Regions from separate parts of the Homo sapiens genome. Here all the other regions are linked to region 1. The links come from fine-mapping of genetic effects on gene expression. A gene starts in region 1. Each other region holds a variant in brackets. All regions are shown on one strand. Distances are from middle to middle.

The links.
Region 2: its variant is fine-mapped to the expression of MARCHF8 in whole blood (TOPMed, PIP 0.96).
Region 3: its variant is fine-mapped to the expression of MARCHF8 in whole blood (INTERVAL, PIP 0.95).

The regions. Positions count from the first base shown.
Region 1 is chr10:45,530,021-45,540,787 of GRCh38, reverse strand. MARCHF8 (membrane associated ring-CH-type finger 8) reads left to right here and starts at 5,417. Exons shown (of 8, transcript NM_001282866.2): 1 at 5,417-5,577; 2 at 7,499-7,678. The coding sequence starts at 7,577.
Region 2 is chr10:45,587,030-45,597,796 of GRCh38, reverse strand. It overlaps a transcript of MARCHF8 not described here. Among named protein-coding and RNA genes, the nearest start is that of MARCHF8, 57 kb to the right of the region's middle. RefSeq lists silencers at 2,724-2,793, 3,074-3,233, 3,334-3,403 and an enhancer at 6,195-6,695. The variant A/G (reference allele first, on the strand shown) is at 4,688.
Region 3 is chr10:45,495,483-45,506,249 of GRCh38, reverse strand. The region is part of intron 2 of MARCHF8 (membrane associated ring-CH-type finger 8); the gene reads left to right. All of the region lies in intron 1 of LOC105378286 (a long non-coding RNA gene), which reads right to left. Among named protein-coding and RNA genes, the nearest start is that of MARCHF8, 35 kb to the left of the region's middle. RefSeq lists an enhancer at 2,375-2,875. The variant A/G (reference allele first, on the strand shown) is at 6,692.

The DNA of each region.
Region 1 (10,767 bases):
TCTTCTTTTGAGAAGTGTCTGTTCATGTCCTTCGCCCACTTTTTGATGGGGTTGTTTGTTTTTTTCTTGTAAATTTGTTTGAGTTCATTGTAGATTCTGGATATTAGCCCTTTGTCAGCTGAGTAGATTGCAAAAATTTTCTCCCATTCTGTAGGTTGCCTGTTCACTTTGATGGTAGTTTCTTTTGCTGTGCAGAAGCTCTTTAGTTTAATTAGATCCCATTTGTCAATTTTGGCTTTTGTTGCCATTCCTTTTGGTGTTTTAGACATGAAGTCCTTGCCCATGCCTATGTCCTGAATGGTATTGCCTAGGTTTTCTTCTAGGGTTTTTATGGTTTTAGGTCTAACATGTAAGTCTTTAATCCATCTTGAATTAATTTTTGTATAAGGCATTATTTCTGAGGGCTCTGTTCTGTTCCATTGGTCTATATCTCTGTTTTGGTACCAGTACCATGCTGTTTTGGTTACTGTGGCTAAGCCTTATGGTATACTTTGAAGTCAGGTAGTGTGATGCCTCCAGCTTTGTTCTTTTGGCTTAGGATTGACTTGGCAATGCAGGCTCTTTTTTGGTTCCATATGAACTTTAAAGTAGCTTTTTCCAATTCTGTGAAGAAAGTCATTGGTAGCTTGATGGGGGGATGGCATTGAATCTATAAATTACCTTGGGCAGTATGGCCATTTTCATGATATTGATTCTTCCTACCCATGAGCATGGAATGTTCTTCCATTTGTTTGTATCCTCTTTTATTTCATTGAGCAGTGGTTTGTAGTTCTCCTTGAAGAGGTCCTTCACATCCCTTGTAAGTTGGATTCCTAGGTATTTTATTCTCCTTGAAACAATTGTGAATGGGAGTTCACTCATGATTTGGCTCTCTGTCTGTTATTGGAGTGTAAGAATGCTTGTGATTTTTGCACATTGATTTTGTATCCTGAGACTTTGCTGAAGTTGCTTATCAGCTTAAGGAGATTTTGGGCTGAGACGATGGGGTTTTCTAGATATACAATCATATCATCTGCAAACAGGAACAATTTGACTTCCTCTTTTCCTAATTGACTTTATCCATTTCTTCTAGATTTTCTAGTTTATTTGCATAGAGGTGTTTATAGTATTCTTTGATGGTAGTTGGTATTTCTGTGGGATCAGTGGTGATATCCCCTTTGTCATTCTTTATTGCTTCTATTTGATTCTTCTGTCTTTTCTTCTTTATTAGTCTTGCTAGCGGTCTATCAATTTTGTTGATCTTTTCAAAAAACCAGCTCCTGGGTTCATTGATTATTTTGAAGGGTCTTTTGTGTCTCTATTTCCTTCACTTCTGCTTTGCTCTTAGTTATTTCTTGCCTTCTGCTAGCTTTTGAATGTGTTTGCTCTTGCTTCTCTAATTCGTTTAATTGTGATGTTAAGGTGTCAATTTTAGATCTTTCCTGCTTTCTCTTGTGGGCATTTAGTGCTATAAATTTCCCTCTACACACTGCTTTGAGTGTGTCCCAGAGATTCTGGTATGTTGTGTGTTTGTTCTCATTGGTTTCAAAGAACATCTTTATTTCTGCCTTCATTTCTTTATGTACCCAGTAGTCATTCAGGGGCAGGTTGTTCAGTTTCCATGTAGTTGAGTGGTTTTGAGTGAGTTTCTTAATCCTGAGTTCTAGTTTGATTGCACTGTGGTCTGAGAGACAGTTTGTTATAATTTCTGTTCTTTCACATTTGCTGAGGAGAGCTTTACTTCCAACTATGTGGTCAATTTTGGAATAGGTGAGGTGTGGTGCTGAAAAGAATGTATATTCTGTTGATTTGGGTTGGAGAGTTCTGTAGATGTCTATTAGGTCCGCTTGGTGCAGAGCTGAGTTCAATTCCTGGATATCCTTGTTAACTTTCTGTCTCGTTGATCTGTCTAATGTTGACAGTGGGGTGTTAAAACTTTCCCATTATTACTGTGTGGGTGTCTAAGTCTCTTTGTAGGTCACTAAGGACTTGTTTTATGAATCTGGGTGCTCCTGTATTGGGTGCATATATATTTAGGATAGTTAGCTCTTCTTGTTGAATTGATCCCTTTACCATTATGTAATGGCCTTCTTTGTCTCCTTTGATCTTTGTTGGTTTAAAATCTGTTTTATCAGAGACTAGGATTGCAACCTCTGCCTTTTTTTGTTTTCCGTTTGCTTGGTAGATCTTCCTCCATCCCTTTATTTTGAGCCTATGTGTGTCTCTACACGTGAGATGGGTTTCCTGAATACAGCACAGTAATGGGTCTTGACTCTTTATCCAATTTGCCAGTCTGTGTCTTTTAATTGGAGCATTTAGTCCATTTACTTTTAAGGTTAATATTGTTATGTGTGAATTTGATCCTGTCATTATGATGTTAGCTGGTTATTTTGCACGTTAGTTGATGTAGTTTCTTCCTAGCCTTGATGGTCTTTACAATTTGGCATGTTTTTGAGTGGCTGGTGCCAGTTGTTCCTTTCCATGTTTAGTGCTTCCTTCAGGAGCTCTTTTAGGGCAGGCCTGGTGGTGACAAAATCTCTCAGCATTTGCTTGTCTGTAAAGGATTTTATTTCTCCTTCACTTACAAAGCTTAGTTTGGCTGGATATGAAATTCTGGGTTGAAAATTCTTTTCTTTAAGAATGTTGAATATTGGCCCCCACTCTTTTCTGGCTTGTAGAGTTTCTGCCGAGAGATCAGCTGTTAGTCTGATGGGCTTCCCTTTGTGGGTAACCCAACCTTTGTACTCTTTCTATCGCCTTCTTAAAACTGGAAGGGTGAGTGAGATAGGGCAACAGTAGCCATCTCCATGTCATCTAGATTAGTTAGATTAGGGATAACACAAAGGAAAAATTAAAATTTTCTCTATCTATCTTAGTCCTTTTACTATTTCTATGGCTTTAATATACTCGAAAGTTCTGCAACCAGCACCATAGTCAATTTTAGAATATTTTCATTATCCTAAAAATAAATCATTGAATCCACTGCTTCCTCCCGTTTACCCATTCCTACCCCAGCTCTTGGCATGCACTGCTCTACTTTCTGTCTCTATAGATTTATCTCCTCTGGGCATTCCATACAACTGTCATCATGTAATATATGGTTCTTTGTGACTGGCTTCTTAGTATAATTTTTTTCTTTTCTTTTTTTTTTTTTTTGAGACAAGGTCTCACTGTATCACCTAGGCTGGAGTGCAGTGGCGCCATACCGGCTCACTGTAGCCTCAACCTTCTGGGCTCAAGCGATCCTCCCAACTCAGCCTCCTGAGTAGCTGGGACCACAGGCATGAGCCACCACACCCGGCTAAGTTTTGAGTTTTTTGTAGGGATGTGGTTTTGCCATGTTGCCCAGGCTGGTCTGGAACTCCTGGGCTCAAGCGATTCACCCACCTTGGCCCCCCAAAGTGCTGGTGTTATAGGCGCGAACCACCACACCTGGCCTACTTAGCATAACTTTTTAAAGGTTCGTCCATATTGTGGCATGTGTCAGTACTTTATTTCTTTTTATTGCTGAATATGATTCCGTTGAATGGATATAGCTTATTTGATTTATCCGTTTATCATTTGATGGACGTTTAGGTTATTTCCACCTTTTGGCTATCATGAGTAATGTGATAGAAACATTCATGGACAAGTTTTCATATGAGGAGATGTTTGCATTTCTCTTTGGTGTATATACCCTAGGATTGAAGTTGTTGGGTCATATGATAACATGTTTAACCTTTTGAGAAAGAGCCAGACTATTTTTCAAAACGACTGCATAGATCCTCACTAGCAGTATATGAGGGTTTCAGTGTCACAACATCCTTGCTAACACTTGTTTGTCTTTTATTATGAACATAATTAAAGTAATATCTAATAGTTTTGATTTGTATTTCCATGATGGCTAATGATGTTGATTAACCCATTTTTCATTGGGTTATTTGTCTTTATTATTATTATTATTATTATTATTATTATTATTATTATTATTATTTTGGTAGAGATGGGGCCTCGCTATGTTTCACACACTGGTTTTGAACTCCTGGCCTGAAGCAGTCCTCCCACCTCAGCCTCCGAAAATGCTGAGATGATAGGCGTGAGCTACTTGCACCTGGCCTTGCCCTTATGTTACTGAGTTGTAAGAGAGTTGTTTATATATTCTAGATACAAGTCCCTTATTACATATATGATTTGCAAACTTTTTCTTCTGTCAGTTGTCTTTAGACTTTTTTTTTTTTAACATTTATAAATAGAGGTAGAGTATTGCTATATTGCCCAGGCCTTTCTTGAGTTCTGGCCTCAAGAGATTCTCTTGCCTTGGCCTCCCAAAGTTCTGGGATTATAGGTGTGAACCATTATGACTGGCTGTGTTTTCCCTTTCTCAGTGGTGTCTTTTGAAGCACAAAAGTTTTTATTCTGATGATGTGTAGTTTGTCTGTTTTTCCTTTTGTGTGAGGAAGAGATCCAAATTTCTTTTGCATGTGGCTATCTAGTTGTCCCAGCACCATTTGTTGAAAACAGTACTCTTTCCCCAAGAAGTGATCTTGGCACCCTTCTTGAAAATCAGCTGACTATAGATACGTGGGTTTATTTCTGGGCCCTAAATTCTATTCCATTGATATATCTATTCATATTCCAGTATGACACAGTCTTGATTACTGTTCCTTTGTTGTAAGTTTTGCAATCTGGAAATGTGAGCTCTCCAACTTTGTTCTTTTTCAAGGTTGTTTTGGCAGATCTGAGTCCCTTGAATTTTATATAAATTTTCAGATCAGCTTGTCAAATTTCTGTAAAGAAGTCAGCTCAGTTTTTGATAGAGATTGCTTTGACTCTCTATGTCAACTTGGGAAGAATTGCCATTTTAACAATATTAAATCTTCTGATCCATGAACATGGACATCCATTTCCAATTTCTTCAACAACCAGCTTTGGCAGTATCTCTTCTAGATGTGAATGTTCATGTTAGGTGGGCTGTATTTTGCAAGTTAGCATTAGTCAAATTGAAGCCCTCATGCCTGGATTGTGAGGCATAGTGCTGAGGTTTAACTGTTATTCTGTGTAAAGATTAATTTAGTTGATATAAAAGATGTTTGGAAATTATGCAAAGAAAATAATGTAATATATGATTTGTATTTTTCATGTAAATCTTCACATAAAAAATGGCATGGCCTGTTTTATCGTTTGTTTGTAAACTCATTTTTATCCTAAATATGTGTGGCATAGGAGGGAGATTGTTTCAGGCAAACTTATAGGTCTGTTGCTTTGTTGTGGTGGTACATATCAAAAGACTAACTTCAATGACAGTGAGGAGGGATGTCCTTCAAAACTGTAAAAAATTTGAGACCCTCTTGCATCTGTGTTTCTGTGCCATAAATAGCCCTTCTCAGGCTTGTCATGGGCATGTACCAATGATGTAATAATGATGATTATATCAGAAGCACCACAGGTAGCTTTTGGCATGGTAGGTATAGGGCTGTGGATATCGTCAGTTTGACCAAGTATTCCAAGAGGCCCCATGGAGTTTGTCATCTGTAATAGAGGACGTTAGTGCATTAGTGATGAAAAAACTGCTTACCACTGACTATTGTGATCTCCCAGGGAGTATAAGGCAGCTCCGCAGTAAGTGCCTCTTGTTTTGTGTGACGTGCTTGAATACAAACATTCAGACTGTTTCTTGGGCACAGTAGTGCTCCATCTTATGCCAGCCTCATCAAAGGCTTGAAATAGAGTAGGTGGTGTGTGATACCTAGACACTAACATCCCCTATTCTATTTTCCTTTTTTTGTTGTTATTATCAATGGTCACTCACTTACTGTAAAACTAGACTTTATAAACAGATTATTATTTTAGCTAATTTTCTTCTATGTGTTGATCCCTCCCAGTTTTTGTTCCTTTTTGTTGTTCATTGATTCTAGAGTTGTGTGAAGGAAGCCATTTCGTGATTCCTGGTGCTCCTCTGCTTGCTTAGTGACACTACTAAGAATTGGCACCAGCCTTACAAACACCTGCCTTTGATCCAGAGTAGAGTTTGGGGAGAGGTAGAGTAAGTGACTGCTTATCAAATGTGACCTTGGGGTTGTCAGGCCCTGTTGTTTACCCTACCTTTTCCTACTGCCTCACCTGTCCCCACCCCCTACCCCAGCACATGGTTAATAAATGAAAATCTCCAAATTCGAGATTCATTCTTTTGGTTGAAGGCTTCCATTTTCTGTTAAAATTTGAACAACATGAAACATTTTACTACATTAAACCTTCTGGATAATTTACGTTTAATTGGTTTTGTATACAGAGTGGGATAGATCTCAGTGGGTAAGTGGGGAGAAAGAACAACACACAATTCAATTATTAGACATTTTGGGGGATGCGTAAGAGAAAACCAGAAACAGGGCAGGAGTACCTGGAATCACTGAAGACAGTTTATGCATACACTGTTATTTTACCTAAAGGCAGCCTTTCTCATGGTTCTTAGGCATGTCATGGTGACCCTTCATATTCCCTAGGAAACCCTTTACGGCAGTGTTTGGCAAACTATAGTCTGGTGGGCCAAATCTAGCCTGCTGCCTATTTTTGTAAATAAAGTTTTATTGGAACATAACTATGCTCATTCATGTACATACTCTTTTTTTTTTGGTGGGGGGGAGGTTGGGGGGTTGGAGTCTCGCTGTGTTACCCAGGCTGGAGTGCAGTGGTGCGATCTTGGCTCACTGCGAGCTCCGCCTCCTGGGTTTGTGCCATTCTCCTGCCTCAGCCTCCTGAGTAGCTGCGACTACAGGCGCCCGCCACCATGCCTGGCTAATTTTTTGTATTTTTAGTAGAGACAGGGTTTCACCGTGTTAGCCAGGGTGGTCTCGATCTCCTGACCTCGTGATTTGCCCGCCTTGGCCTCCCAAAGTGCTGGGATTACAGGCATGAGCCACCGCACCCGGCCCATTTACATGCTCTCTATGGGTGCTTTCATGCTACAGTGGCAGAGTTAATTAGCTGGAACACACTTGGACCACAGTGCCTAAAATATGTATCTTGCCCTTTATAGGAATAGTTTGCCAACAGCTCGTGTAGAGTCTCTACTTTTGGAAGGTTAAGTATGGATCATAGATACCTTGAGTTTAATTTGGACTTCCTAACCTCTGATCTCACCATTATGTGGACTCACAGACAGTGGTTTTAAGGAAAGATCACTGCTTATTTCAGGACAAATGCTTGGTCATGATAAAAAAAAAAGTTTAACTTCAAAAATATTCTTAAAATAAATGGTGGCACTGCTTTGTTTTAATCCTAAGTAGCCAATGGAAGATTATATCTCTGATTATACATGTACGTGATCCACCTGCCTCTTTCAGGTGCTCCCATCTTATTATGAGAAATGTTAGAATTTTCCCCTTAGACATTCATCTTCTATTGTTTTTGAAGACCAAACATTTATGTTGCCGTAACTTATTTAAATATACATATGAATATAAGTATAAAATGTTAAGCTCACTCTTGGAAATTTAAAGTGTTTTAGCTGAGTTATGTTTATTCTCTCTTCATTTTCTCTCAGCTTGAAATCCATGGCCCAAAATGACTCTACCAGTGGAGACTCTCTTCTGTGAAGAAGACGACCAGATAAGAGGTTGGGATGAGCATGCCACTGCATCAGATCTCTGCCATTCCATCCCAGGATGCCATCTCTGCTAGAGTCTACAGAAGTAAGACCAAAGAAAAGGAGAGGGAAGAACAGGTACTGGGAGAGTATCTTTTTTAGTTTCATTATTTTTATTAAATTTTTATTAAAGATGACCTAGAACAGTGCTTAAACTCTAAAGGTCAGGTTTTCTCTGATAATATACTGACAAGCACACAAATAGTTGTACTCAGAAGGAATTGTCTTTTTGTAGATTTCTAGGTTTTCAGATTTTGGTGTAAACTACTGTTTATAAATGGTTATAAATGACTTATCTTCATTGGTTAAATCTACCTGATTATTTTTGGTTAATCACTGTGACTAAGTTCTTTGGATTCTCAGAACATGATGCTGCTAGTTTCCTATTCATCGTAGTGTGAAATTTGGACACCAGATGGCTGGAATTTCTTAATATGTGTCTTAGTCTGCCCTAGCTGCTGTAACAAAATGCCATAGCCTGGGTGGTTTAAATAACAAGCATTTATTTCTCACAGTTCTGGAGGCTGGAAATCTGAGATCAGGGTGCCAGCATGGTTGGATTCTGGTGAGGTCTTACTTCCTGACTTATAAACAGCTGCCTTCTTGCTGTGTCCTCACATGGCATAGAGGGAGGAAGGAAGCAAGCTGTCATGTGGCTGTTCATATAGAAGGACTGATCCCATGGAGAGGGTTCCACCCCTAGGACCTAATTGTCTCCCCAAGGCCCCACCTCCAAATACCATTACATTATGGATTAGAGTTCTGGCATAAAAGTTTTGTGGGAAACATAAACATTTAGTCCATAATAGTGTGTACATGGGGAAGCTATACAAACTTGTTTGGAATAGAAAAAGGAAAATGTCCAACAGTTAGGCCAGGAAGGGAGATTCTTTTTGATATACACCCTCACTGCAGGTTTACTGTAGGTGGTTATTTAATAAAGCCTTATTGAATTTATCTATTTGATGGGATTTTTAAGGTCTAAATAAATAGCATTAATCAATTATTTGTAGAATGGGGATTTTTATTGGTATTGGGAAGAAAGAGAAACCATTCTGTCTTACCTTAGTGTGGGGATGGTTTGAACACCCAGTGGCAGCCTGACAGTTCAGGGTGTCGTGGAGCCCAGATGAGGTGGCAGTAGTGGAAGAGCAGTTGAACCAGGAACTTGCAGGGCCCCGTGAGAGCTTCAGCAGCAATGGCACAGGATGAAAATAGTGGTTGTGTTTCTAGGGTCTCAATTGTGGTATCAGGTTTGATTTGAAAGGTAAATTTTTGTCCAGTGGAGCCCATTTTTATTTATGCAGTTTTTCCTGGCACAGGTTCAACCCAAAATCTTTTGCTATGATTTCTGATCCTCCTGTGCTTGGGAGATATTATTCCTACTGAGTCCCATAAGAAGAGTGAACCCTTGCATTTTACCTAGACTCAAATAATCCACCTGTTTGCTTAGTCTAATCTGTTAACACACCCTCGCTGAAGCCCATAACTTCTACAGAGGGTTAATGACTTTTATACAGTACTCAATACAGTTGATGAATGAATGAATGAGTGAATATGAATTCAGTTTCAGTGATATGGGTCATGTCACTGTGGAGATGATCTTTTATTTCAAATACAGTATGAGAACCTTACAATAGTATACTTTCATTTCTTTCCTTCTGGCCTTTTCATTATTGTCTTTTAATAAATTTTAAACCCTAGAATATATTTAAAAAAATACTTTCTCTTTAAATACTTTTCTTTTAAATAATAATAAAGATCTGTTTACTCAGATAATTACCATTTCTGGTGTATTTCCATCTATCATTTTTCTTTTGTCTAAAGGACTTTAGCATTTCTTATAATGTGAGTTGGCTGACAATGACTTCTTTCAGCTTTATTTAAAAAATATTTTTTATTTGTTTCTTGTATTCTGAAGTTGTGCTTGTGGATCAGTGGGTTTACAATTTTCATAGAATTTGGAGCTTTTTGGCTATTCTTCAGATACTTTTTCTGTCCCCCCATTCTTTCTTTGGGGACTCCAGTATACACATTGACTGGCTTAAAGTTGTCCACTGCTGCACTTTTAATTTTTTAAGGTTATTTTTTCTTTCTGCATTTTATTTTGGATATTCCAATTACTTTGTTTATAATTTCATTAATATTTTCTTTTTCAATATCTAATCTGCCAGTAATTCCGTCTAGTGTGTTTTTCATCTCAGACATGTTTTATCACTAGACATTTGTTTTGGATCTTTTTTATATCTTCCATGTCTCTATGCAACTTTTTTAGTATATGAAATAACAGCTATAATGACAGTTTTAGTCCTCTTTTCTGTCATTGTTGGCATGTGTGACTATTCTGAGTTTGCTTTTCTCCCTCACTTCGGTCAGTTTTATTTTCATTTTTGTTATTATTTTTTACTTATTTTTGAGTACAGATCTTGCTCTGTTGCCCAGGCTAGCATACAGTGGCGTGATCACAGCATACCGCAGCCACGAACTCCTGGGCTCAAATGATCCTCCTGCCTCAACCTCCCAAGTAGCTGGCACTATAGACCATGCCTGGATAAGTTTTTCTTTCATTTTGTAGAGTCGGGGTCTTGCTATTGCCCAGGCTGGTCTCAAACTCCTGGGCTTAAGCAATCCTCCCATCTTGGCCTCCCAAATTGCTGGGACTGCAAGTGTGAGCCACTGCACCTGGCCCAGTTTCATTTTTAAGTAAAAGTTTATTTCAGACTAGTTTTAGATTTACAGAAAAATTGTTAAGCTAGGATGGAGTATTTTCATATACCTGACACCCAGTTTCTCATATTGTTATTATTTATAGATTTAGTACAAGTGCAGTGTTGTTACACCACCTGAATAGTGCACATAAGCACCCATGAGGTAATTTCTCATCCCTCACCCACTCCCATCCTCCCACCTTTCTGAGTCTCCAATGTTATTATTCCACTCTCTATGCCCCTGTGTACATATTTTTCAGCTCCCACCTGTAAGTGAGAATATGTGATATTTGACTTGCTCTTTCTGAGTTATTTCACTTAAGATAGTTACCTCCAGTTCTATCCATGTTGCTACAAAAAAACATGAATTCATTCTTTTTTTATAGCTGAGTAGTATTCCATGATGTGGATTACTTTATCCAATCATCCGTTGATGGGCACTTAGATTGATTTTATGTC
Region 2 (10,767 bases), 57 kb before region 1:
GTCAGTGAGACCAAGAACCCACCAGAAGGAACCAACCCCGGGCACACCAGCACTTTGAGAGGCCGAGGCGGGCGGGTCACCTGAGGTCAGGAGTTCGAGACCAGCCTGGCCAACATGGTGAAACCCTGTCTCTACTAAACATACCAAAAATTAGCTGGGTGTGGTGGCAGGCGCCTGTAATCCCAGCTACTCAGGAGGCTGAGATGGGAGAATTGCTTGAACCAGATAGGTGGAGGTTGCAGTGAGCTGAGATCGCATCATTGCTCTCCAGCCTTGGCAACACAAGCAAAACTCGTCTCAAACAACAACAACAACAACAACAACAAAACTAGAACATGGTTGATGGGTTGATGTATTTAACCATTTGGTAGGGAGTCAGTGTGACTGGTTCTGGAGATAACACTGATCACTTGGCTCAAGCCTGAATTCTTTCTTATGTCTTCATGTCCCACAAACTGTAGGAGAGGGTAGGTAATTTCCCTATGTGGGCTAAGGCAAAGGAAAGGCAGTGTATTAGGAGTCCCCATTAACACAAGCAGGGAGGATTTGGAATTAAGCTGTTGCCACAAGGCCAGTATGCCTCTTGGAGTGAGCACCTGGTGCCCTATGAGCAATTCCCTTACTGGCTGCCTTACATTCTGAGTGCAACAGTTTCTTCCCAATTGTGCTTTGTTTCCTTGCTGGCAATCCGCCCCCCCCTTTTTTTTTTTTGGAGATGGAGTCTCACTCTGTCACCTAGGCTGGAGTGCAGTGGCATGATCTTGGCTCACTGCAGCATCTGCCTCCTAGGTTCAAGTGATTATCCTGTCTCAGCCTCCCGAGTAGCTGGGATTACAGATACCCGCCACCATGCCTGGCTAATTTTTGTATTTTTAGTAGAGAGGAGGTTTCATGTTGGCTAGGCCACGTTGGCCAGGCCGGTCTTGAACTCCTGAGCTCAGGTGATCTGCCTGCCTCGGCCTCCCAAAGTGCTAGTATTACAGACGTGAGCCACCACGCCTGGCTGGCAATCCCTTCTTGAACTACACTCCAGGTGGCAAGAATCTGGACCCAGGACCTGGACACGTTCAAGTTGTCAGCTCCCTTTCCCTCAGGACTCTGACCTCCTATACTAATACCCCGTCGCCAAAGACCATATTGGTTAACATTTACCCAACACTGTATGTATTGGGCACTTAAAAGTGTTATACAGGCATTACCTCATTTTGTCTCATAACCACTCTATTCAGTAGATATCTTTCAGAAAGCTGAAGAGAGGCTCGGAAAGGTTAAGGAAATTGCCTAGACAGTAATGGTTGCGCCAGGACTCACCCTAGCTTTGTCTCCATGAGTGCTGCTTATCAGCCCTGCATAGCTCACAGATCCCTGTTGAACTACGAAGGTTCTGCCGCTTCCTGTAGAAGGATGACAGGATTCCATATCCATTCATCAGTCAGCCAACCCTTTGGCTCAACAAGCCTGGTCTAGGCATAAGCTATACCAATGGAAGATATTGGTACTACCTTCATGGAACACCTGCTGCCAGAAGCAGTAGAGCCAACCAGGTTGTGGCAACTGGCCTTGATAACCTATTTTCCACAGTAAAAGACAAATGGAGAAAATTCATCATTTTTCTGCTCTTTGTAATACTGTATTGTAAGTGTGTTATAGAAATGGAGATGTTTTGACCTTGCTGATCCAGAGGATATCTTGAGCACACTGTTTTGAACCTGACAATCTGCTTTTTACTTAGCCAAAAATTCAAAGTGGTCAGAATTGTAGGGAGGAATTGATTAGCTATATGATAGATCACTCCGGGACAACAGAACAACTATGGAATATTTGAGAGGATTTGCTTATAATTCACTCATGAATTTACTAAGAAATACAAATTATTCATCTTTTATGCATGATTATGGGAGAAATAAAACTGGCAGTGGTTGAAACTATTTCTGGGAAGTTTGATGTAGGAAAATTGGATTTGGTAGACAGTGATGAAAGTGACAGAGGAATAATGAGAGTTTTATGTGGACAAAAGATGAATGCAGAGTCTGGCCCGGTGCAGTGGCTCATGCCTGTATTCCCAGCACTTTGGCAGGCAGAGGCAGGCGGATCACGAGGTCAGGAGATTGAGACCATCCTGGCTAACACGGTGAAACCTCGTCTCTACTAAAAACACAAAAAAATAGCCGGGCGTGGTGGCGGGCGCCTGTAGTCCCAGCTACTGGGGAGGCTGAGGCAGGAGAATGGCGTGAACCCAGGAGGTGGAGCTTGCAGTGAGCCGAGATCGTACCACTGCACTCCAGCCTGGGCTACAGAGTGAGACTCCGTCTCAAAAAAAAAAAAAAGAGATGAATGCAGAATCAAATATTTAGACGTCTGTATGTACACAGAGATGATTCCCCCATAAAAATTAAAATACAACTTAAAAGTAAGAAGTCGTATAAACCTCCTTCACGTGCTTTCTCTGGCTGAGAGGCTATGCTGTGGGAATCTTTCAGTCCAGATTAGGGAGCGAAAGCAAACAAAAATCTGTCAAGGCAAAAACCGTTATTACTTATTCCTTCGCTTTTCCTCCCGTTTGATAGCCTCAGGTAAGAAAGTATTTTCCATCTTCTTCTCCAAGTAAAACATCCTTTTGCCAGACAAAATTTCCTTTTCCTTCCAAAACACTAATATTAATAACATGTAGTCAGGGCCAGGAGACACTAAACGACACACACAGAGCTGGGGAAGTCTTTTCGGTTCCAAGCCCAGTGGGTTGTCGCCTGGGCACTGCGAAGGGGTGGAAGCACAGAAAGGCCGCGCGGCGGCACCCGCTGCAGCCCGCCCCCAGCGCGCTGCAGTCGCCGGGGCAACGCCTCCACCCAACTCGGCCGGACACGTGACGCCCGCGTCACGTGACCTGCCACTCGGTGTCCTCCCGCGGAGGGGCGTAGGGTGTAAACAGGCGACGCGCTGGGGGAGGTGCGGCCTTGCTGCGTCCACGTCTCGGGCATGCTCGAGGCGGGCCAGGGCGGTAGCGCCGCCAGCTCAGAGCCCACCTGAGGTAACTCCTGCGGCCTCTAGGATCGGAGTCCCCCACGCCGCGCGCAGCCGCCGCCGCTGGCCGCCAATAAGGGCGGCCGAGCCCCCGGCCCGGGCAGGGGGTGTGGCTGCCGGCAGCGCGTCGGCTACAGGTGGGCTGGGCTGGGCTGGGCTGGGCTGGGCTGGGTGGGGGCGGCCGCCAAGGACCCATCCCTGCGCTGCGGGCCCGGCGTGGAGCCCGCGGAGAGGCAGCGCGACTCCAGGCAGTGGGTCTCTCTGCCCCGGTGCTCGCGTCTGCCCCTGGGGCCGGGCCGAGCGGAACCAGGAATCGCAGAAACGGTCAGCGCCCAGGGCTCTAGGCCGGCCGCCCCGGGTGCCAGGTGAATTCCTTTCCCTGACCGGCTGTGAGACGTTGGCCCGTCAGCCGTCGTCTTTGGCCTGAGTGTGCACATCTGTAAAATGGAAGCTCGGACTAGTGATCCGTGAGGACCTTCCACGTCTGACGTGTGATCTCGAGAGACCTGCGTACATTCGGGGTGCCAGAAGGAAAGCATAGGTAACTATTTTGTCCTTTAATTGCTAACTTTTCTTTGGTCTTTAAATCTGTTTTCATCTTAAACGATTCGTATTCCTGTCCACCTGGGTGAAGTTTTTAATAGAAAACTTATTGGGTGGGGGTTATAATGGTTTATGTTACCGTTTTCATGTTTCTTTAATGCAACAAAACCTTTTTTTCTTAAAACCTATTTGGAAGCCCAAATTGTAAAAATAAATAAATAAAAATGGAACCCTTTTCTGCCTCACTATCACTATTCTCACCACCCATCCCCACGCTAACTACCCTTGAGGACCCCTGCAAGTCATAGGTTGAGGAGCTCTGTATGGAGTTGAGGAAATGTTTTGTGTATTTTTTAATTTGATGGGATCTGGAAAATGAATTCTTTGCATGTGTGGAGTTTTCTGTTATTTTTCTCTTTATTTTGTTCGATTGCATGCTATGTAATTAGACAGCTAGCATAACCCTCACATACCATACTTCGGGGCCTTTTTGGCCCCAAAATTTCTGATAAAGACGTTTCTCTTTCCATGTTTCCTTGCATCCCAGTCCCTGGGGAAGTAAGTGTATGTTTATAATAGTGAGACTTCATTCCTCATTGCTGATTTAGTTGCTCCGATACAGAATGGGAATGGGAGACTTTTGAGGCCAACCGAATGGGTTAGGACATATCTGAAAAACATGAAAACGCTAAAAAGCATGAAAACTGAAGGAGTATACGAACTCAAGTCGTTGAGAGTCATGAAATAATGTGAACATGCTCTTGTGTGAAATCTTGAGACCCTGGAGCAAGAGAATTTTGGATTTTGAGAGAACTGAGTTCAGGAGAGAAGGATGTCCTGTTTCATATGGTGAGTGAAAATATAAACAGTATGAGGTGGTAGTGTGTAGACAAAATTATCAGGTTTTTTTTTTTTAAGAGTAGCACATAGTTTCCTAATTGATTTTGGAGACTAGGGTTTTAAGAGATGTACTGAAACTTGAAGTTTAATGTTACAAGAGGGAAACCATACTCTTTTACACCTTGTCTGCTTGGTGCTTCTGTGAGTTGAGCAAGAATTGGAAGTGGAATGTACTGTAAGTGGTACCCAAGGTGACCTAGTGGAAAGGTTTTCTCTTTTCAAA[A/G]CCAACTTACTTCCCTGATCTTTGGCTTAAGCTTAAGCAAGTCAGTTCCTTTCTTTGGTTCTCAGTTTCTGCTGAAAAATGAGGAAATTGGATTGATTACTATTCTACCTTTTGGCTCCAGCTAGGTTTGCCAGATAAAATACAGGATGCCTAGTTGATATGAATTTCAGATAAACAGTGAATTTTTGTAAAATTTTTAAAATAAATTTTTACTATAAATATTACGTGGGAGCATACTTGTACTAAAAAAAAGATTCGTTGTTTGTCTGAAATTAAAGTGTAACTGGGCTTGCTGTATTTATATTTCCTAAATCTGGCAGCCTTAGCTCCAACATTTTTGTCTCCTTTAAATTAGTGCCAGCTCAAAGCAGAGCTGGGAATGAATTGATTCAAGCAGCCAAGAAACCCTAATGGTTGTCAGTAGTAGCGTCTGGTTCTTGAGGGTTGTCGTTGATTCACTTGTGGTTTGTTTCTTTTTCCCTTATGTAGTAGTTCCATTTCTGCTATAATCACATAATGTTTAGGTTTATACTTCTGGTGGTAAGTAGTTTAAAATATCTGAAAGCAAGTTAAAAATATTGCTGAAATTTCTAAAAGTAACCTCATTTTTTCGAGCCTTGAAATGGTATGTGCTTTTTCCCCCCCGTAAAAGACACTTTACAACCCTACCTGTTCCCTAGGTTTGTGGTTGACTGCAAGACATTTTCTAAAGCCGTGGACTGTTCTGATGCCAAGTAATCAGGAAGTTATTCTTATGGCTTCTAATTTTGTTCCCTGTGAATATGAAAAATTATCACTGTATACACTATAAACATTTTATATTTTATCTGACTGTTGTCAGCTTTGTCTTTGCTGTATTGAAGGGTTTTCAATTTTGAAATTCTTTTTCAAGGAGTGTAATTTTAAACTCTTTCTTTCTTTCTTGTCCAGACCAATTTCTTAACTCACTTGGAAATGCCTGAATTTTCTAATTCATTTTTTAAATCAATAGTCAACAAAAAATTTGGTGTGTTTGGAGAGCCAGGTTGATGATGTGACTGGTGTTCTAGTTCTCCAGGTGCTAATTTCTGATAGAGGAGTTAAAACGTGTAATCTGAGGATAATATGATGAAGGCTTTGAAGAGGTACAAATGCTATGGAAATTGAGAGGAAGGATGGGTGCCCTTCAGATTGATATATGGAAGAAAATCTCTGGAGGAGGTAGAAGTGGATTCTGGACATGGAAGTAGAGGTGGGATCAGGAAGACAGAGGTGGACAGAACGGTGGAAAGAAGTGGATAAGGGCAAGGAATCTGTCTTCTCAGTTCTACAAAGCATACACTTTGCTGGATTTAAAATACTTTACAATATTGTGTATGTGTGGTGTTTGGTTCACTGTGATGCTCTCATCTCCTTTATATTTACTTTGAACTGCTCTGGTGTCTTTCTGTATTAGAAAGACCTTCAGTTGTCAGTGAAGCTCTTTGAAAAAATGTTTATTAAATGTGTCACGCATATAAGAGTATGTATTGAAAAAAGTAGAATATTACCAATAGCATTGAGACCTCCTGTGTACTTCTTCCTTCCTCTCAAAGGTAACCAGCATGCTGAATTCTGTGTCTGTCATTTCTTTGCTTGCTGCTGCTGCTGCTTTTTTTTTTTTGAGACAGAGTTTTGCTCTGTCACTCAGGCTGGATGGAGTGCAGTGGCACCATCTTGGCTCACTGCAACTCTGCCTCCTGGGTTGAAGCAATTCTCCTGCCTCAACCTCCCAAGTAGCTAGGACTATGGGCACACGCCACCATGCCCTACTAATTTTTGTATTTTTGTAGAGACAGGCTTTCACCATGTTGGCCAGACTGGTCTGTGTCTCAGGCGTCCATGTGAAGAGACCACCAAACAGGCTTTGTGGGAGCAGCAAGGCTGTCTGTTTCACCTGGGTGCAGGCAGACTGAGTCCGAAAAGAGAGTCAGCAAAGGGTGGTGGATTATCATTAGTTCTTATAGGTTTCTCAACACCTATAAGGTGGTGGAGTTAGGAGCAATGTTTTGCGGGCAAGGGGTGGAACTCACAAAGTACATTCTCAAGGGTGGGGAGAATTACAAAGAACCTTCTTAAGGGTGGGGGAGATTACAAAGTACGTTTATCAGTTAGGGTGGGGCAGAAACCAATCACAATGGTGGAACGTCATCAGTTAAGACTATTTTCACTTCTTTTGTGGATCTTCAGTTGCTTCAGGCCATCTGGATGTATAAGTGCAGGTCACAGGGGATATGTTGGCTTAGCTTGGGCTCAGGCCTGACAGTCTTAGACTCCTGACCTCAAGTGATCTGCCTGCCTTAGCCTTCCAAAGTGCTGGGATTGCAGGTATAAGCCACTGCGCCTGGCCTGCTTTCTTGATAATGTTATTTTACGTTGTATATGTATATCCCCCCAAAATATTGTTTGCTTATGCATATTTTTAAACTTTATATAAATGGCATCATGCTATGTGGACTTTTTTTCCTGCAACTTTTTAAATTAGTTACTAAGTTTCATCCATGTTTTTCTTCAAAGGTAAGAATTTCTCTGGAATATACATCTAGGATTGGAGTTGTTGTTTGTCAGGTGCGTACACCAGTAACTACTAGATACAAATTGCTTTCCAATGTAGCTGTACGGTTTTATTGTCCTACAAGCAGTGGGAGAGTTCCTGTTTTTATCCTGTCTACATGCTCCCCAGTGTTTGGTATGAGAAAACCATGTATCTATTAAAGGTCTAGTATCCAGAGTAAGTATCCAGAGTATTTAAGGAACTCTTATACCTCAGTCATAAAAAGAAAAGGAACTCAAAAAAATCGACAAAGGATTTGAATAGGCAGTTCTTCAGATAAGACATACAAATAGCCAGTAAGCACATGAAAAGATGTTTTACATCATTAGCTACCATGTAAATGGAAATCAAAACCACAGTGAAATACCATGTTACACCAACGAAGTAACTAAGACGGTTACTAAGTGACTGTCTAAGTGACCATCTTAGTAAACTAAGATGGCTATGTATAATAAAAAAGACAGGTAATAATAAGTGTTGGTGATGTTGTGGAGAAATTGGAATCTACATGTTGGAATGTAAACTGGAGCAACTGCTTTGAGAAACAGTCTGGCAGTTCTTGAAATGGCTAGATTTGGGATAAGGGATGATAAAGCAGTTCCACTCCTAGGTATATACCCAAGAGAAATGAAAACATATATTTATGCCAATATTTGTATGTACATGTTCACAGTAGCGGTAGCCATAATAGCCAAAAAGTTGAAACAACTCAAACATATATCAACTGATGAATGGTTTAAATAATGTGGTCTATCCATGCAGTGGACTATTATTCAGGAATAAAAAGGAATGAAGTACTGACTCATGCTACAAATGGATGAACCTTGAAAACATTCTAAGTGATAAAAGAAACAGTCACAAAAGGCAACACATTGTGTGATTACATTTATATGGAATGTCCAGAATACAAATATAGAATTAGATAGTAGATTACTGGTTGCCTAGAACTGGTGTTGGGGTAGGGGGTGGGGAAAAATGGGGGTTTGACAGCTAAAGAGGACTAGGTTTCTTTTTGGGGTGATAAAATATTCTAAAATTGATTGTGGTGATGGTTGTACAGTTCTGTGCATTTGCTAAAAACTATTGAATTGCACACCTGCAAAAAAGCTATTAGTGGAAAGAAGGAAATTTTTTTTAACAAAGATGCCATGTTGTATGCCTCCTGGAGAATCCTAGGTGGTAGGGACTGAGACTTGCTTATAGCCATGTGACTGAGATGGGAACCATATCCTTTTAATACATGGAGGCCTTCAGAGGATCCCACAGCTTGGCCAGCAGCTTGACTGCAACCCCATGATAGACTTTGACCCAGAAGTACCCAGCTAAGCTGTGCCTAGATTTCTGGCCTATGGTAACTATGAGGTAATAAATGTCCATTGTTTTAAACTACTGAGTTTTGGGTTAACTTGTGTGCAACAGTAAACACTCATAAGCAGCAGTGTTGCAATGTGTATTTTTTAAATTTTAGTTTTCTGGAAAACTATGGTGATTAAATTACTAAATTATAATATGGATTCTTTTTTTTTTTTTTTTTTTTTTGAAACGTAGTCTTGCTCTGTCACCCAGGCTGGAGTGCAGTGGCGTGATCTTGGCTCACTGCAAGCTCCACCTCCCATGTTCATGCCAGTCTCCCTGCCTCAGCCTCCTGAGTAGCTGGAACTACAGGCACCTGCCACCATGCCAGGCTAATTTTTTGTATTTTTAGTAGAGACGGGGTTTCACTGTGTTAGCCAGGATGGTCTCGATCTCTTGACCTCGTGATCCACCCACCTTGGCCTCCCAAAGTGCTGGGATTACAGGCATGAGCCACTGCACCCGGCCTATAATGGATTCTTTTATTCATTATTTTGTTAACCACAATTCATAACCAATAGTCAATGATACATTTATTGAGATATCCTGCCAATTATTGGGGATAAATTATACTTAAAATGGCTAAAATTTCTTTTATTACAGTTTGAAAAAATGTGTAATCTCTGTATAATACAAGTCTTTATCAACCAAAACAGGCAATTTTAAGACAATATAGCAGTACATAACATTTCACATATTGGTATGGTTTTCTGGTAACTTTTATATTTAAAACATAAGTGGTATTAATATGTTGGGAGATTTATTTATTTATGACTTCAGCAAAGGCACTCAAAAAAGAATCATCAAGGCAAAACTACCGTCTCATAGAAGCCAACCCGTTCTTGTAGGAACTATATGAAAGGAGGTTAAAAAGATTTTTGTTCTTTTCCTTTGAATATTTCTGTTCTTCAGTTGAAGAAATGTTGTATGACTGTATGGATAAGGAAAGTGTTTCGAAATTTCATTTAAGAAATGAAGACATGTTTTCACAGTTTGTAAGGATTTTCTTTTTTTTTTTTTACTTTTGACAAAATGAAAAAATATATTTATTAGCATGTAAGGATAGCTGAAATATTGTGTGAAAAAAAGCCTACTGAATTTTCTCCTATGTTCTAGAGGTTTTATAGCTCCACTATTAAGGTTCATGATCAATTTTTAGGGGTTGATAGGGTGTTTGGTATGAGCTATGGGTCTAGGTTCTTTACTTTCCTTTATGAATACACAGTTTTTTAATTTTAATTTTATTTTTTGTCCGAGGAGGCCTTGGGCTCAAGCTAGCTGGTCTAATATACATTTTTTAATATCATTTGTTGAAAAGGTAATTCTTTCCCTATTGAGTTTCTTCCCCTTTCTCTATCCTTTGCCCATTGAGTTCTCTTGGCATTTTTGTTGAAAGTCAACTGGTGATGTATGTGTGGATCTGCTTTTGGACTCTCTCCTGTTGCTTTTGCTGTCTGTTCTTATGTCGGTACCATATTATCTTTATCTATAACTTTATATGAGGTTTGAAATTGGTTAGTGTAAATCCTCCAACTTTGTTCCTTATTTTCAAAAATTTTCTGGGTATTATAGGTCCTTTGTGTTTTCAAAAGTATTTTAAAATCAGCTTGTTAGGTTTTTTAAAAAAGAAAACAACTTGTGGTTTCAATTGGGATTGTCTTGGTTCTATAGATCAGTTTGTGGAGAATTGCTATTTTAATGTCATCGAACCTTTCAATACATGAACATGGTATAGCTCTCCATTTATTTAGTTCTTTAATTTCTTGCAACATGTTTTTTAGTTTTGCAGTGTACAGGTCCTATGCATATTTTGTTGAATTTATATCTTAATATCTTACATTTTTAATGTCATTGTAAATAGGATTAAAAAATCATTTCTCAAGTATTCCTTGCTAATGTGTAAAAATACAGCTGATTTTTGTATATTGTCTTTGTGTCTTGTAGCCTTTCTGAATCCACTTACTAGTTCTGGTAGTCTTTTGGTTGGATTTTCTCCACATACAGTCATTGAATAAAGACAGTTTTACGTCTTCCTTTCCACTCATGTGCTTTCTATTTCTTTTTCTTGCCTTATGACACTGATGAGGACCTCAAGTCCAATATTATGATAGAAGTGGTGAGAGCAGATGTCCATGTCCTGTTGTCAATTTGAGGG
Region 3 (10,767 bases), 35 kb after region 1:
AGATTTGCTTTTTTTATGTGAACTTGATTTCTTAATACAGCTCAATAATTGGTTTCTTGAAAGTGTTAGATCTTCAACCTCCTTATTTTCTGGGAAATTTAGGAATATTCTGTTTATATATGTACTTATTTACCTCTATGAGTAAATCAGAATATATTACTTTAAGAGATTTCATAATGTAGTAGATTTTATAATCTAATTTGTTAATCCCATTCTGAGGTAGAAAATTATTGCACCTTCACACATTGAAAGACAACAGCCTTTCTGAATTACACATAGACACGCAGATGCGGAAAGAGTTTATGACTTCAATTCTGAAATTTCAACTATGGGGCCATGGCAAATACAGAATTATAAAACTCATCAGTCCGTGTCAAAGAGTTGCTCTCTTCCCAGTGAGCATGAATTCTTAATTGATTCGTGGTGAGAACAGACAAATAGACAAACAGAAAAAAACTAACAAACCAGACTATTTATAGTTGCTCACCCATTAAACCATTCACAAAGATTAGAGATTTTTATAAAATGGCCAGACCATAAAACCGAATCCCCATTGGGAAATAATTTGTTGGAGGTCCCAAATTTCACAGCCATGTGGTTTGAATAGGATAGAATCACCTGTAGCTCCAGATGGCTCTAATTGGCCTAAAGCAATTAATGTTATCTTGTTCTTCAACCAGTCACTGTGGGAAAAAGTAGGGGTAGAATGTTGCTGGGAAACAGAAGTTTTCTGGCTTAAACAGTAACTAGATCACATCTGGCATTAATTACAAGCCTGTGGTATTGATTAAAAACAAATAAATGGATAGCAACTTAACTGTAACAGAATTTGGCGATAGCAACTGGGTAGTTGCAAGTAACAGACCCTAATATGTGAAATTGGCTTAATAGATACAAGTGAAGTCAGGCAGTCTCTTGCCACAGGGATTGTTTTAGGATAGTGTCTACCCCTAGGACTGGGAGTGGGGACCCAATCCTACTGAAAGTCAATGCTGAGAAGTTTAGGGCTCTTCAGGGGAAGGTAAAGGAGAGAATAGTGTTGGAAACTCTGATTTGTGATAGGGACAAACTGAGCCATGGAGGGAGCCATCAAGGCGGGTCTTGATCCTGTGCTGTGAAGTAGGCAATCCTTCTTTCTTATTCAGGAGTAGCTGGATTAATAATATGTCTTGTTTTTTGAACAGTGAGATCTTGATTAAAGGCAAGAAGGCATAAGTGCTTAATTGTATATATAATTAACAGCTCGAAATGAGCAATAAAATGAAATTTATGTCTCTTATAAAAGTAGAAATGCAGAATGTAGGGCCACCTTTGTAGAATGTCGGAATTGTTAATGATCTCTGGCCACTCAGTATAAGCCCCTACTCAGGAGGAAGAGGGACGCAGTAAGGGAAATACTAGTGCTAAAAGTGACAGTATTTTCAGCAAATTGGCATATTTTTCTTTTAAACATGCCAGATACGCGAACATGAATCTTGACATCCTTAGCTCTGATTATAGTCATTAGTATCCTCTTTAAATTTAGGAAACACCATCTAGAAAGAAAATTGGCTATATTTATTCACCATGTTTACAGTATAAGAATGAAATTCATACTGTATGGTGTTTTGTTGTTAGATTCTGAGTGAGTGTCCATTCACTTAAATTTCCAATATCCAGTGCTAGCTTTGTGCTAATGGCTTGTAATTAGATAGCTGGTGTCCTGTATTGATTAGCTTATACAGAAAAAACACTGGAGAAAAAACAAGGTGTATAGCACAGTGTTTTATACATCATAGGTTATTTTTTGGATCTTAGTTTTTTTCGAGACGGAGTTTCGCTCTTGTTTCCCACGCTGGAGTGCAATGGCGCGATCTCGGCTCACCGCAACCTCCGCCTCCCAGGTTCAAGCGATTCTCCTGTCTCAGCCTCCCAAGTAGCTTGGATTACAGGCATGTGCCACCTTGCCCACTAATTTTGTATTTTTAGTAGAGACGGGGTTTCTACATGTTGGTCAGGCTGGTCTTGAACTCCCAGCCTCAGGTGATCTGCCCGTCTCGGCCTCCCAAAGTGCTGGCATTATAGGCGTGAGCCACTGTGCCAGGCCAGACCTTAGTATATTTTAAAAGTTGAGATACAGCTTTCATACCATTAAATCACCCTTTTAAAGTGCCCAATTAGTAGATTTTTAGTGTATTCATAAGGTTGTACAGCTGCCACCACTGTGCCAGTCCAGAACATTTTCATCACCCGAAAATGAAACCCTCTACCCATTAGCAGTCACTCCCCATTCTCCCATCCCCACAATCCTTGGTAACTGCGAATTTACTTTTTGTCTTTGTGGATTTGCCTATTTTTGACATTTTATATAGATGGAATCATATAATATATGATCTTTTGCTACTGGCTTCTTTTACATACATAGCATAATGTTTTCAGGGTTCATATTGTAGTATGTGTCAGTATTTATATCCTTTTAATGACTGAATAATATTCCATTGTATGGATAATACCACATTTTGTCTCTCCATTTATGTGTTGATGGACATTTGAGTTGTTTCTACCTTTTGGAAATTTTTATTTGTGTTTGCTTGGTATATATTTTCCCATTCCTTTATTTTACACTACCTGTATCAATGAAACGAGTTTCCTATAGATAGCATATAATTGGTTGTTTTTTATTTATTTTTAGTTTTTATTTTATTTATTTATTTATTTATTTATTTATTTATTTGAGACGGAGTCTCGTTCTGTCGCCAGGCTGGAATGCAGTGGCACGATATCTCGGCTCACTGCAACCTCTGCCTCCCGGGCTCAAGCAATTCTCCTGCCTCAGCATCCTGAGTAGCTGGGATTACAGGCATACGTCACCATGCCTAGCTAATTTTTGTATTTTTAGTAGAGACGGGGTTTTACCGTGTTGGCCAGGATGGTCTTGATCCCTTGACCTCGTGATCTGCCCGCCTCAGCCTCCTGAAGTGCTGGGATTACAGGTGTGAGCCACCGTGCCCGGCCATAATTGGTTGTTTTTTTAAAAAGTCAGTTCTCCACATTTGTGTCCTGTAATTGCAGTGTTTATGTACACTTAATTGTTGCTATATTTATCTATTTGGAGTTTGACTATCTCTTTGCTTTTTAAAAAATGAGTTACAAAATACATACTTCTCAGAGTCTATTTAGAATCAGTATTTTGCTACTTCAATTGTAGTGTAGAAACTTCGCTAAAATATAGAAAATATATCACAACTTTCACTTTCCCCCTTTCTGTTACAGTTATCTTACATTCTACATTGCATACCTTCAGAGCCCCTCATAGAATGTATTATTATTATTATTATTTGCTTTCAGCCGTCAAATGTAAAGAATCAAGAGAAAAAGAATAGTCAATTGTTTTTGTCTGAATGCTTAGCCTTTCTGTTGCTCTTTCTTTATTGCTGATATACACATTGTTTTCTGGTATCATTTTCCTTCCATGTGATGAATTTCTTTTAAGCAGTTCTGTTGGTTGCTAATCTTGTTGTTACTCTTTGTCTGTGACTGTTTTTATTTCCCTTCATTCCTGAAATATATTTTCACCACATACTTAGTTTTAGGTAAACAGGTCTCTTTTGTCAATATTTGAAAAATGATGTTACTTCTGACTACTGGCCTTGAGGGTTTCCTGATGAGCAAGACACAGTCATTTGAATCATTGTTCCTCTATAAGTAATGCATCCTTTTTTTCTCTCTGCTTTCCAGATTTCTTCTTGTCTTCATTAATTTGACTATGGTATGCCTGGGCATAGGTTTCTTGTAGTTCATTCAGTTTTTTGAATGCATAGGTTTATGTCCTTCTCCAAACTTGGGAAAATTTTAACAAATTTCTTCAAATATTTGCCAGCACCGTACTTTCTCGTTTACTGTTTGGAATAATTTGTAGCCATTTGGGATTGGCTTTTTAAATTAAGTGTAATTCTCTGGAGATTTCTTCCAGGTTTGTGTTTATCAATAGTTTGTTCCTTTTTACTAGTGGAGTAGTTTTCCATGTTATGCACGGACCACAGTTTTCTAACCGTTTACCTGTTGAAGGACATTTGTTTGAACAAAGCTGCTATAGACACCTATAGGTTTTTATGTGAACATGTGTTTTCATTTCTCCAAGGTAAATCTTCAGGAGAGCAATAGCTATTTCATGTTTAATTTTTAAAGAAACTTCCAAAGTTTTTTCCAGGATAACTGTCATTTTATTTTCCTGCAAGCAATATATAAGTGATCTAGTTTCTTTATATCCTCAACATTTGGTGATGTCATTATTTAAAAAAAAATTTTTAGCCATTCTGATAGGTGTGTAGTAATATCTCATTGTGATTTTACTTTCATTTATCTAATGGCCAGTGATGTTGAACATCTTCTCATGTGCTTATTTGCCATCTGAGTATCCTATTCATTAAGATGTCCCTTCACATGTTTTGCCTATTTTCTAATTGGATTTTTAAAAATGTTCAGGTCTAAGAATTCTTTCTGTATTCTAAATACTAGTCCTTAATTGGATATTCATTTGCAAATATTTTCCCCCAGGCTATAGCTTTTATCTTCAGCCTTTTAGCGGGGTCTTTCATGGAGCAAACGTTTCTGATTTTGATGAAGTTTAATTGATCAGTTTCTTAAATGGATCCTGCTTTGGGTGTGTAGTATAGGAACTCTTTGCCCAACCTTAAATCCTGAAGATTTTCTCCTATTTTTTAAAATGTTTTATGGTTTTAGATTATACATGAAGTCCATGAACTATTTTGAGTTAATTTTTGTATAAGTTTGAGACTCAAGTCAAAGTTCATTGCTTTGTTCCAGCATCATTTGTTGAAAATTCTCTTTCCTCTATTGAATTGCTTTCTTAAAAATCAGTTGGGCATATTGTATGGGTTGATTTCTGGATTCTCTGTCTTGTTCCATTGATGGTTATGTCTGGTTCTTCACTAGTACCACACAGTAGTGATTACTCTGGCTGTATATTAGTTCTTGAAATTGGATGGATGGATTTCTCCCAGTTTTTTTATTCTTTTAGGATTCTTTAGGATTGTTTTAAGTATTCTAGTTCCTTTGCCTATCCATATAAATCTTAGAATAACCTGTCTATATCTAAAAAAAAAACTTGCTAGAATTTTGATAGGAATTATGTTTAAGCTGTTTATCAATTTGGGGAAGAGTTGTCAGCTTACATTATATTGAATTTTTCATTCCAGGAACAGTATGTATTTTTATATGTTGAGATCATTTTTGATCAATTTTTTTTGCAGCATCAGCAATCAGATTCATGTTTTACTTGATGTGCACCTAAATACTTCAGTTTTTTTAGAGTGGCTCTATAATAGTAATTGTGAGTTCTTTTGTTCATTGCTATATGTGTGTTATATATATGTATATATATATATAGCAATGCAGTTAATTTTTGTATGTCTATTTTGTATCCTCTGACTTTGCTGGACTCCTTCGAGGACTTTGTTGTTGCTATTGTTAATACCTTAGGATTTTCTACATAAGCATTCATGTCATGTGCAGATAGAGATTTTTATGTCTTTCATTCTGATATATATGCCTTTTATTTTGTTTATTTTCCTAATTGTGGTGGCTAGAACTTTTGGCACTATGATGCATCAGAATAGTAGAAAACATTCAAGAAACTGGGAATAGAGGGAAACTACCTCAACATAATAAAGGCCATATATGAAAAGTCTGCAGCTGACATTATAGTCATTGGCGAAAGTCTGAAAATTTTTCCTCTAAGATCAGGAGCAAGATAAGGTTGCCTGGTTTTGCCACTGCTGTACAACACATTACTGGAAATCCTAGCTGAGCAATTAGGCAAGAAAAAGAGGTAAAAAGCATCAAAATTGGAAAGGAGTAAAATTATCTCTTTACATATGACAAAATTTTTTATATAGAAAACCCTAAAGTTTCCATGCAAAACAAACAAAAAATCAGACTAAATGAATTCAGCAAAGTTTCAAGTTATAAAATCAACACACACACACAAATCAGCTGTGTTTCTATATACTAATAATGAACAATCTAAAAAGGATATTGAGAAAACAGTCCTATTTACAATGGCATCAAAAATGCATAAAATAGGAATAAACTTAACCAAAGTGGTAAAGACTTATACACAGAAAACTACTATATATTGATGAAAGAAATTAAAGAAGACATAAAATAAATGGGAAGACATCCTGTGTTTATTGGAAAACTTAATATTGTTAAGATGACAGTACTGCCCAAATCAATCTGTATATTCGGTATAATCCTTCTCAAAATCTCAGTGACTTTTGTTTTACAGAAATAGATAAATCTGTCCTGTAATTTATATGGAATCACAAGGGATCCTGAATAGCCAGAACAATTTGAACAAAAAGAACAAAGTGATGGTGTGATGCTCCCTGACTTCAAAACTTATTACAAAGCTACAGTAAACAAGTTAGTGTGGTACTGGCATAAGATAGACATAGAAACCAATGGAATAGAATAGAGAGTCCCAGAAATAAAGCCTCACATATTTGGCCAAATGATTTCCCACAATGGCGCCGAGACTAGTCAGTGAGGAAAGGACAGTCTTTTCAACAAATGATATTGGTGGGGGTGGCAGGGGTCTGGATATTAAGAGGCAAAAGAATACAATTGGACCCTTACTTTACACCATGTAGAAAGATTAGCTCAAAATGGATCTAAGACTTAAAACTAT[A/G]AAATTCTTAAAAGAAAACCTAGGGAAAGAAGCTTCTTGACTTTGGATTTGGCAAAAATTTTTTGGATATGACACCAAAAGCAAAGGCAACAGAAGTAAAAATACAGAAATTAGATTACATCAAAATTTAAAACTTCTGGGCATCAAAGGAAACAGTGGACAGGGTGGAAAGGCCACTTAGGGAATGGGAGATATTTACAAATCATATATCTGATAAAGGGATAATATCTAGAATATATAAAGAACTCCTACATCTCAACAGCAACAAATAATCTGATTCTAAAATGCTTGAATAGACACTTTTCCAAAGAGGATATACAAATGGCTAGTAGGCATATGAAAAGATGGTCAACATCATTGATAATTAGGGAAACGCAAATCAAAACCACAGTGAGATACCACTTTACAACCATCAAGGATGGCTGTTATATATATTTTAAAAATGTGTTGATGAGGATCCGAACAAAGTGGAACGCTGATTGTGCACTGCTAATAGGAATGTAAAATAGTGCAACCACAATGGAAAACAGTATAGGAGTTCCTTAAAAAGTAAAAGATAATTATTACTGTATGACCCAGGAAATCCACTTCTGGGTATATACCCCAAAGAATTAAAAGCCAGGTCTCAAAGAGATATTTGTATACCTGTGTTCATAGCAACATTATTTACAGTGCCAAAGGGTGGAAGCAATACAAGTGTCCATCAAAGGGTGAATGAATAAATAAAATATGGTACATTTATTGCATATAGTTTCACATTTGTTTTAAAAAGAAAAGGATTCTGGCTGGGCACAGCGGCTCACGCCTGTTATTCTAGCACTTTGGGAGGCCGAGGAGGGAGGATCACCTGAGGTCAGGAGTTTGAGACCAGCCTGGCCAACATGGTGAAATGCCATCTCTACTAAAAATACAAAAATTAGCTGGATGTAGTGGTGTATACCTGTAATCCCAGCTACTTGGGAGGCTGAGTCAGGAGAATTGCTTGAACCCAGGAGGTAGAGGTTGCAGTGAGCCGAGATCATGCCACTGCACTCCAGCCTGGGTGACAGAGCGAGACTTCTCAAAAAAAAAAAGGCTTCTGACACATGCTACAACACGGAGGAATCTTGAGGACATTATGCCAAGTGAAGTGAGCTAATCGCAAAAAGAAAAATACTGTTATGATTCCACTTGTATAAAGTATCTAGAGTAGTCAGAATCATAGAAACAGAAAGTAAAAATTTTTAAAAATATTTCGGGGGTAGGAAGATATAGGGAATTGTTTAATGAGTATAGAGTTTCAGTTTTTGCAAGATGAAAAAGTTCTGTAGATTGTGCAACAATGTGAATATACTTAATACTGAACTGTACACTTAAAATGGTTAAGATGGTGAATTTTATATTATGCATACTTTATATGATGGTGTGTTTACATTGTGTGTATTTTGCCACAATTAAAATGTTAAAAAGAAATGGTGAAAGCAGATAGAATTGCTGTTAAAATTTAGGGAGTAAGCATTCAATCTTTCACCATTAAGTATAATGTTACCTGTAGTTTTTTAGTAGATGTTTGTATTAGTCTGTTCAGGCTGCCATAACAAAATACCACAGACTGGGTGGCTTAAGTAACAGAAATTTAATTTCTCACATTTTTGGAGACAAGAAGTCCAAAATCACGTTGCCAGAAAATTTGGTTTCTGGTAGGCCTTTCTTTCTGACTTACATATGACTGCGTTTTCTCTGTACCTTTCTTTAATCTTGTCATTTACAGCTATAAATATCCCCCTAAGCACTATTTTAGTTGCATTGTGTAAGTGTGGTATTTTGTGACTTCATTTTTATGAATCTCAAATAAATTTTCTAGTTTTTTTTTGGTGAGTTCTTTTTTGATTTACTGGTTATTTCAGATTTTGTTGTTTAATTTCCGCATTTGTGAATTTGGTAGTTTCTCTCTGCTGTTGATAAACAATAACATTTAACTCTAAAGTTTAACTCTGTTGTAGCCAGAATCATACTGTATATGATTTGAGTCCTTTTACATTTACTGATGTTTGTTTTGTGGACTACTCTATAGTCTGTTGTTGTGCACTTGAGAAGAATGTATATTCTGTTGTTGTTGTTGGGTTTTGTATTCTGTGGATGTCTGTTAGGTCAAGTTGGTTTAGTGCTGTTCAAGTCTTTTACATAGCTCGGCTGTTCATTGTTGAAAGCAGGATTTTGAAGTCTGCAAGTATTATCTGTTTTTCAGTCAGCTCTGTCAGTTCTTGCTTTATGTATTTTGTGGTTTTCATATTAGGTGCTTATATATTTATAATTATTATACCTTCATGATGGTTGACCTTATCATAGTAAAAGTCCCTCTTTAGCTCTAGTAAAATTTTCCTAAGTCTTTTTTATCTGATATTAATATAATGACTACCCCTTTTTATGGTGGTTGTTTTTGTGCTATGTATCTTTTTGCTTCTTTTACTGTAATCCTGTTTATAATTTTGAGTCTAATTGTATCTCCTGAACTTAGAATACAACTGGATTTTGTGTTATTGTACATCCTGACAACCCTTCCTGTTGATTTGTTAATCCATTTGCAGTTCATGCTATTAATGATATGGTTTGCTTGTTTGCCATTTTACTTTTTGTTTTCTATGTGTCTTGCCATTTTTGTTCCTGTGTTCTTCCTTTATTGCTTTCTTTTGCATTATTTTGTATTGTAATATTTTAATTCCTTAAATGATTTTTAAAAAAGATTTCTAATGCTATTTAAAAAATTATTTTCTTAATGGTTGAGGGTTTACTATATATATATATATTTTTCTAACAGAATCTTCTTCAGATTCATATTGATTTAATTCCTGTAAGACATAGAATGATTCCTCCTATGTACCTCTATTTCTTTACTAATTATTGTTTATACATATCTATTTATGTTACAAACCCAACAATACATTGTAGCAGTTATTAGTTTATTTAACTGTCTTTTAAAGACATAAAGGAAAGGAGAGCATTATATGTTTATACAGTTTGTTATTTTAAAGTTAGCACTCCTTATTATCTTCATTTGTTTCAGTGTAGAGTTTCCATGTGATATCATTTCCTTATGCCAACCTTTCATAGTAGAAGTCCCTCTTTATCTCTGGTAAAATTTTCTGAATTCTGTTTCGTCTGATATTAGTATAATGATGACAACTTTGTACCCACTTATCTTGTATTACTATTAAATACATTACATTTCTTTATGTTATAGGTTTAACAATACAATTATAAACATAGTTTTTATATAATTCCTTTTTAAATTATTTAAGAAAGGAAAATATATATGCAAAATATATATGCATTTATATTGTCTTATAGTTACACAGTTACTTTTGACTACTGTTTGGCAGTACATGCTTTCAACTCAAAGAACTTCCTTTAGTATTTCTTTTCAGGTGCATCCACTTGCAATGAATTCTCTGAGTTTCTGTTTATCTATGAATGTATTTTTCATCTTCATTTTTGAAGATAGTTTTGCTGAATATAATTATCTTGGTTCACATTTTTTTTCTTTGAGTTCTTTATGTCCTTCCACTGTCTCTGGCCTCCCTGGTTTCTGAGGATAAGTCAGCTGTTAATCTTTTTGTGGTTCCCATGTACCATGGAGAATATGATGAGTCATTTATTTCCTGCTGCTTTTAGTTTTTCTTTTCCTTTCTCCTTTCTTTTCTTTTCTTTTCTCTCTTCTCTTCTTCTCTTTTCTTTTTTCTCTTTTCTCTTTTCTTCCTTTCCTTTCTCCCCTCCCCACCTTCCTGCCTGTCTCCCTCCCCTCCCCTAGCATCCCCTCCCCTCCCCTCCCCTCCCCTCCTAACAAATTAAGAGATAAGAAAGCTTGTGATAATGTTTGTGTAGATGGGAGTGTCTTTTCCTCTTCTTCATGGCCATAAAACTCCTCCTAGACAGGGGAATTATGGTACGTTTACTCTTGATCTCCTTCCTGGGAGTAAACCGTTGAAGAGGGAATTTATGGCAGCCTCATTTGTCACAGTTTCTGCTTTTAATCATATAAGGGAAGTATGGAGAGGGCTTCTTCCTGCATTCATTGAATATCAGATGTCTTCAGCTTA